Linked DNA regions of Homo sapiens. The protein of the gene in region 1 purifies or fractionates together with the protein of each later gene. This does not show direct contact. Each region holds a gene or a part of one and is shown on either strand. Other genes may lie near its edges. The genes, in order: GFM2 and SLX4.

Region 1 (3,815 bases):
TACTTATAACAATCCTCAAAATAAATTATTCTAGTAAATCTCTCTTGACAGAAAACACTTGCATAAAAAACAGAAATAAACTAGAAAAAGAAATTCACAAGAGCACTCTACAATTACACTCACATGTTAAACTTGCAAACTAGCTACTAAAGCCACCAACCTTTCCTTTGCTCAGTTCATCAGCGTGTTCCTCAGATAAGGAGCACAACTCTACTAGTATTTCCTTCTGGCACCTATCTGAACACTCCCGCCCCTAATAATCTCAAGGAAATAGCCAAGAAGTAAAAAATGGTTACAGAGCCCTAATAAGGGAGATTCTTGCAAACAAGAGAGAGAAAAGAGATAAAGCAAACAGCTTAGATAAAATTAGAAGACTCTAACATTTGTACCTGGTAGAGAACTGCAATTTCTTCCAAGCGGCACATGTGGCTTTAATCTTTTTAAACTTGCTCTTATTTTATAGCAGCATATATTCTAGTAAAGAGAAAAAGAAACTTGGCATTAATTTTATTTTAGCATCACTTATTACAGTGTTAATATTGTAATTACGCTTTGTCAGAAGATAAAATATTTTGTATAGCTTTAAAGTAGTCCTAATTTATTAACTCCAATTCTTTTAAAAAGTGACAATCCAAATATATCCTAGGGGAAAGAATAAGGATAAAATTAATACTGATTTGCTATTTTGAGCTGACCTTAAAACAATGGTTTTCCTCAACCTGCAGCATTAGCATGGGCTGAGGGCTTGTTTGAAAAACATGCTTAGGCTCCAATCCAGACAAGAGAATCAGAAACTCTTGGGGATGGAGCCAAACAATCTGTTTAAACTAGCTCTCCAGTTGATTCTAATAGCTACAGATTGAGAACCACAACCCTAAAGTTCTGAAAGTCAGAAGCTGAGTCAGAAAGGTTAAATAAGGTATCTCACCCAGGATACACCTTGGTTTTCCTCTACATCTGCTGAAAGGTCTGTAGGGGGCAATGAACTCTAAAACCATTAGTTGTTTTCAGGATTTATTACAGTTACACATTAGAATCATCTGGAAAGCTTCTTGAAGACACGGGGGTGGGGAGAGAAAATGAGAACTGGAGGAACTGGGCAGTGGCATTTAAAAAAAATTCCCAGGGTGTCTCCAATGTAGCATTCAACTGAGAATCACTGAGTTAGAGCAGGTCTGCTTAAGGCCAAGCCTACCTCCTCTACCTTAGCTGCTTACCTAACCTTCTCATGTTCTCATGTAAAGGCTGAATATTCTCCACCTCAGTTTATGCCCAGACCACTAGATATACATTTAATAGCTGCCAATGTAGTTGGAATTGTTAGTGTATGTAATGATTTAGGGCCACCACAATCTGCTTTTTGTTTCATGAACTGCGTATCTGTGCGATCTATATTATTTCTACATTAGTTACCAAGTTTCTGGCAATAATAAGCTACTATCCTCAGAAAATAATTCCACTGCATAATGACTAGGATAAGACCCAGTGTCTATCACAGCGTGCATAGTCTGAAAGCGTCAGCAATAAAAGCACTGAAGAAAAACTGGGTAACTCCTTGGGCCACTTAATGAGATCACAAATGGAATACAGAAATATATCTTCTTCAAAATGCTGCTCAGGTGATTTTTAAAGTAGCAAAAAAAAATTGTAGATGAATGGTAAGGCTTCTTAGCAACAACAACAAAAAAACTGTAGACGAATGGTAAGGCTTCTTAAGGGTTACAGGTTCTCCCATACAGCAGTCACACCCTATCCACAGGGGTTATATTCCAAGACCCCCAGTGGATTCCTGAAACCTCAGATAGTACAGAACCTAATTACTATCAATCAGAACATGGTTCTGTTCATGTCTTCTGCCCACAAACTGAATACCTTTTCCATCTTAACTGAGCTCTTATCATGTTATGTGACCATAATTTTTGTAGTTTGAAGTGCAACAGTAAAACTAGCAAAAATGTCTTTTTCTTTCTTCACAATTTCATGGATAGAAGATTCATTCCTACCATAGATCTTAGCAACCTCAGCATATGATTTGTTTTTTTCCTTATTAAGCCAAGAATGTTCACCTTTTCACTTAAAGGGAGCACTTTATGGCTTCTCTTTGGCACATCCAAATTGCCAGCATCACTACTCTTGCGCTCTGGGACCGTGATTAAGTAAAATAAAGGTTACTTGAACACAAGCACTGCAGTATCACAACAGTGAATCTGATAACCCAGATGGCTACTGACTCATGGGTGGGGAGTGTATACAATGTGGATATGCTGGGCAAAGGAATGACTCACCTCCCAGGTGGGATTAAGTGGGATGGCATGAGATTTCATCACAGTACTCAGAATGGCACACAATTTAAAACTTATGAATTATTTCTGGAATTTCCCATTTAATTTTCAGACCACAGTTGACTCTGAGCAACTGAAACAGCTAAACAGCAAAACCATGAATAAGGGGAAACTATTGTACTCCCTGTTAAGTCACTGAAGATAAAAAGAAACAACCCAAACAAGCTTTAAAGTAATCTCTCACTTAGCTATAGATAAAAAGGGTATTATTATGTTTGAGATTTAATATCTTTAAGTATACTGAAGATGTGATAGTTTAGAAAATAATTTATAGTGTTTTGAAGAGGATTCAGGAGTCAGACCAGAGCTAAAGACTAAAACAATGTTCCTGAGACAAATATCAGACTGCCGAAGAAGCTGGCTTCCAACAGCTCTGCAGAAGACAGCCAAAAGTAGTTGTATCAACCATTGTATAATTATGTTGTACTTTGATATTAACAGAAACTTTATTTCATAAGAGTCTCAATCCATGGATACTTAATATTACAAAGCACATTATTTGTTAGTAGTTTAAAGATGTGCATTAAGTGATGACATTCTTAGATATAAAACCCTACCCCTCCTTCAAAAACAACTGGCATTTTAGTACTCCATGAGACCAGTATTTAGCTACAGCTGTTCTTTTACTTTTAAATTAAGGTAATTTCCTCTTATATTTCTTAATAAATTAAGGTAATTACTTTCAAATTAGTTTAGCTTGAAGATTTCCAAAGGTTATGACTCAACTAAATTTGGAATCAACAGCTGATGAGATATACTGGGCATTTTAGGCAGTAAAGGAGCTGAGGTTGTTAAAGGACACTTAATTTTATAAGAAATGCTTACATTAATATACACACTGGGTATTGTCTGATGACTCATTGCAAATATCCTCAAGTTGGTCAACATCTTGATCCTCCAAACTGTTACTGTCTGAAAAAATAAATATACAAAATCAAAAAACTAAACTTATGTATTACATGTCAGCAAGGCATATGTAAGTTAGACATATGTAATATGTATGGTAAAATGTATTACTTTTAAAAAGTTGGAACAATATTTTTAGCTACCAAAAATTCAATGCATCATTCAGAAAATGGAAAATTCTGATTAAATATGAGAAATATGGTTTTTAGGTTTAAAATGTCCCTTATTTGTCAATGTAATGTTTAAAGAAAGATATGGCGATACAGTAGAAATCAACTTATTGAAATTACAAAACATTGTATCAACCAAAATGCATTGTTATGTAAATGTATAGAATTAAGCATAAAAAGCTAAGCATCCACATATTAACTTGGTAATTTCTAATTGGCAGTAAAATTTATTGATTCATTTGTATACTCTGATTTTCCTACCATACCATGTAAAAACTAAATCATGTAAAAAATATATAAAAGCAAGTCCTCTTCCTCTCTGATTATAGAAACTAAGCATCTTTAGTTTAAAAACATTTGCTAAATATTCACTATGTTTCAAGTACAATATCAAAGC
Region 2 (3,815 bases), on another chromosome or scaffold:
GGGAAGGGATCCTTTTCTGCCGGTGTGGCCAGGACCGTGTAAGGAGCATCGGAAGTATTGATGGGTGAAGGTGGTGGGAGTCCAGGGAGCCTGCTCAGAGCCATCGATTGTTGACTCCATTGGATGGGCTTGGCCACATGAGGATGTGCAGGTACCACAGATGGCTCCGTACATCTGCCATGAGCCTGCTGGACAGCAGCACGTGAAGGAACCCAGACCCTCCTGTGCCTGGGCCATGTTGAACTTCTGGCCTGGAATTGAATGAGTTCACACAAGGCAGTGGAAGTGGGGGACGCATCTGCCTGGCAGGTCCACATCCGTCACTTTTCTCTCAGGCCCAGCCCTCTCCAGACCAGTGTGACCAACCTGAGAAGCGTGCACTCCTCTAGCCCCAGTAACTTTTCTCTTTGGCTGTTTTCTAGCTTCAGTGATCACAGTAGAGGTCTGAAACGGAGAGGACCCACCAGCAAGAAGGAGCCACGGAAGAGGCGGAAGGTGGACGAGGCACCGTCCGAGGACCTGCTGGTGGCCATGGCTCTGTCCCGGTCGGAGATGGAGCCGGGTGCGGCTGTACCAGCGCTCAGGCTGGAAAGTGCCTTTTCTGAGAGGATAAGACCAGAAGCAGGTTTGTGTGATCAGAAGAGTGACCCTGGGAGAGGCCATCAGCAGGTCCCGGGTGAGTGGACCGACTCCACCGTTGATGGTGTCGCTTTTGTTTCTCTCTAGAGAATAAAAGTCGCAAGAAGAAACCCCCGGTATCCCCCCCATTGTTGTTAGTCCAGGACTCTGAAACCACAGGCCGACAGATAGAGGACCGTGTGGCCCTGCTCCTCTCTGAGGAAGTGGAATTGTCTAGCACGCCACCACTTCCTGCCAGCAGGATTTTAAAGGAAGGGTGGGAAAGAGCGGGCCAGTGTCCTCCTCCACCTGAACGCAAGCAGAGCTTTCTGTGGGAGGGCAGCGCACTGACTGGGGCCTGGGCCATGGAGGACTTCTACACGGCCAGGCTGGTCCCTCCTCTCGTGCCCCAGCGGCCTGCCCAGGTGAGTCCCTCCCCTCAGGCACATGGATAGGCTTTTGGGGGAGGTTGGCAATCCCAGAACTGCAACACTGGGTACCCACAGCCAGGTGATGGAAAGTCCAGGAAGGAAAGGCAGAGGCGGGAGGAGGCCAGAGGGGCACTTGGTGGCTGCAGCTTTCTTCTCTGTCCAGCAACTACATGGTACTCTGGGTAGGATCAGGGAGGACCCTTGGTGTCCACCAGAGTGTGTTCCTGGAGTTTGTTGAAAATGCAGAGTCCCGGCCGGGCGCAGTGGCTCACGCCCGTAATCCCTGCACTTTGGGAGGCTGAGGTGGGCGGATCACGAGGTCAGGAGTTCGAGACCAGCCTGGCTAATATGGTGAAACCCCATCTCTACTAAGAATACAAAAATTAGCCAGGCATGGTGGCACACACCTGTAATCCCAGTTACTTGGGAGACTGAGGCAGAAGAATCGCTTGAACCGGGGAGGCGGAAGTTGCAGTGAGCCGAGACCGTGCCATTACACTCCAGCCTGGGCAACAAAGTGAGACTCTGTCTTGAAAAAAAAAAAAAAAACAGAGTCCCAGGGCAACTGGCAAAATGCCTCAGATGGAGCCCGGAAACTGGCATTCGGAGCACACACTCCAGACAGTCGTGCGGCAGGTAGCCCTACAGTCAGTACGCAGCTGCCTGAGGCAGCTTGGAGGACTTCAGGAGGGCGGCAGGCCTGGGCCCCCCTGGCCTCTGACAAGCCTTTGTGCAAACAGATGCCACAGGCCTGGCCTTGGCCGTGACAGAGGAGGAGCATGTTGACATGAGTGCTGGGGAAAAGCATCCCAGGACTGCTCCAGGCTGTGGCTGGAGCCCCGGGGACAGTCTGTCCCCACAGCCCACATCCTGCTCTGTAGTTTTAGGTCCAGCCGTGCATACCACATGTGATGGCTTCTGCAGTGTGTGCGTCAATGACAGTGACCACGTGGTCACTCTCCTTACTGGCTTCTTTCAGGGCCTTATGCAGGAGCCCGTGCCGCCTCTGGTGCCACCTGAGCACTCAGAGCTGAGCGAGCGAAGGTCACCCGCTCTCCACGGCACCCCCACTGCAGGCTGTGGCTCCAGGGGCCCGTCGCCTTCGGCCAGCCAGAGGGAGCACCAGGCCCTGCAGGACCTCGTGGACCTGGCGAGGGAGGGACTGAGCGCCAGCCCGTGGCCCGGCAGTGGGGGCCTGGCTGGCTCGGAAGGGACTGCAGGTGAGATGCTGGGTGGGACTCTAGGGCCAGCCCTGCCCTCCCGGGCCTCCCCTCCCCGCGGCTGAGGCTGCCATGGACTGGCTCTTGTGCCGCCGCGACGGCAGCTCTGACCTGGTGGGAGAACACGCAGCCTCTGGGCGCTTTCATTTTTTCTCAAAGGTCAATGTGGTGTAGACAACTCTGTCATGATTTTCCTTCCACTTTAACCAAAGACAGAGCTGTCTGCCCACAGCGAGTGAATCCTCTGGGTGAACTGTCTGTTTTGCTCTTCTCTTACCTCCCTGGTGGAGTGGTGGTGAGACAGGGTGTGCGGGTTTGCTTTGCATGAAGGTGTCCTCGGATAGCAAGCACCTTCCGAGGCACCGCAGGGGCTGGCTCAGCCTGTGGTCAACGCTGTCTTCTTGGTGGTGGATGTGGCTGGGCTGTGACGTTCCTTTAACCTGTGAATCCTCCACTCAGGGTTGGACGTGGTGCCCGGCGGCCTTCCTCTGACTGGGTTTGTGGTGCCATCGCAGGACAAGCACCCGGACAGGGGCGGCCGCACCTTGGTAAGAACTGGCTCTGGCCCGCGCTCTCTGGTCCCGGCCATCCCACTTGCCATGTGTGTGGTGGGGTTGGCTCACCGCTGGCCTCTGGCCCCCAACGCAAGTGCAGTGGCCTCTCAAGGCCTCTGCTTTCCAGAAGGCTGCCACATCCTGACATCCGTGAGCAGAGCCACGGACCCACAGCCACCTCAGCGCCCCTCTGGGGGCTCTGCCACGAGACTTCTGCCTTTTCTGTCTGTGACTCCATGGGGCACCTTGGGGTTGAGGCCCCAGAGCCTGCCCTGTCCTGGGTCCCAGGAGTGTAGAGGGACCACAGTTTCTCAGCGCGGTTGCCCCATCCAGGCACGCTCTGCTCGTTCCTCAGTAGTTGGGAGCTCACCAAGGGCTTGCTCTCCCTCCCCTCTGTGCGGGTCCTGGGCTCCAGAGCACAGCTGAGCAGCCTGGCCTGGCCTCCCTGTCAGTGCGCTGTCTGGGGAAGAACCGGGGTGGGAACTGGCTTTTCCCTAGAGTGGACCTCCTCCCATTTGCATGTCAGTGTCAACCAAGCACTTCATGCCAAGGCCAGCCTAGGGACATCATCACAGACTGGACCCGGCTGTCCTCTTGGCCAGGTCCCCGAGCTGCTTGGACTCAGGGTGCTTGTCCGTCACAGGGGATGGGTGCACCTCCTCAAAGCCCAGGTATCCCGCAGCCTGTCCCACTCAGTGCGGGAGCTGCCAGCACTGTGAGTTCACATCTAGCCCCATGTCTGGCATCTCCACGGGGGCCAGGGAACCCACTGGCAAGAGCCAGAGGAACAAGCTAGTGCTTTGCTCTTCTGTGCTACTCAGGGCCTTAGGGTCACTCAGAGGTTGAGGCCATCGTGGGAAGCGTTTTGGAGAGGAAAGGAGAATGCAGGTCCTGGCTCCCGGCCCACCCTAGCGCCACCTCCATGCGGGGAGCTTCCCACTGCCCAGTTAGCAGAGCAGAGGTGGGGAGGTGACGGCTCTTCCTCTCCTCCT

What was found.
Region 2: the proteins of GFM2 (region 1) and SLX4 purify together in Homo sapiens (co-immunoprecipitation; one large-scale study listed by IntAct). This does not show direct contact.

The regions. Positions count from the first base shown.
Region 1 is NC_000005.10:74,760,513-74,764,327, forward strand, and holds part of GFM2 (ribosome-releasing factor 2, mitochondrial), read right to left. Parts: intron 3,255-3,815; coding exon of another isoform or gene 3,231-3,254; coding exon 3,168-3,230; intron 475-3,167; coding exon 390-474; intron 1-389.
Region 2 is NC_000016.10:3,594,607-3,598,421, reverse strand, and holds part of SLX4 (structure-specific endonuclease subunit SLX4), read left to right. Parts: exon of another isoform or gene 1-261; coding exon of another isoform or gene 262-422; coding exon 423-625; intron 626-726; coding exon 727-1,043; intron 1,044-2,028; coding exon 2,029-2,269; intron 2,270-2,728; coding exon 2,729-2,817; intron 2,818-3,815. UniProt on the Homo sapiens protein: Regulatory subunit that interacts with and increases the activity of different structure-specific endonucleases.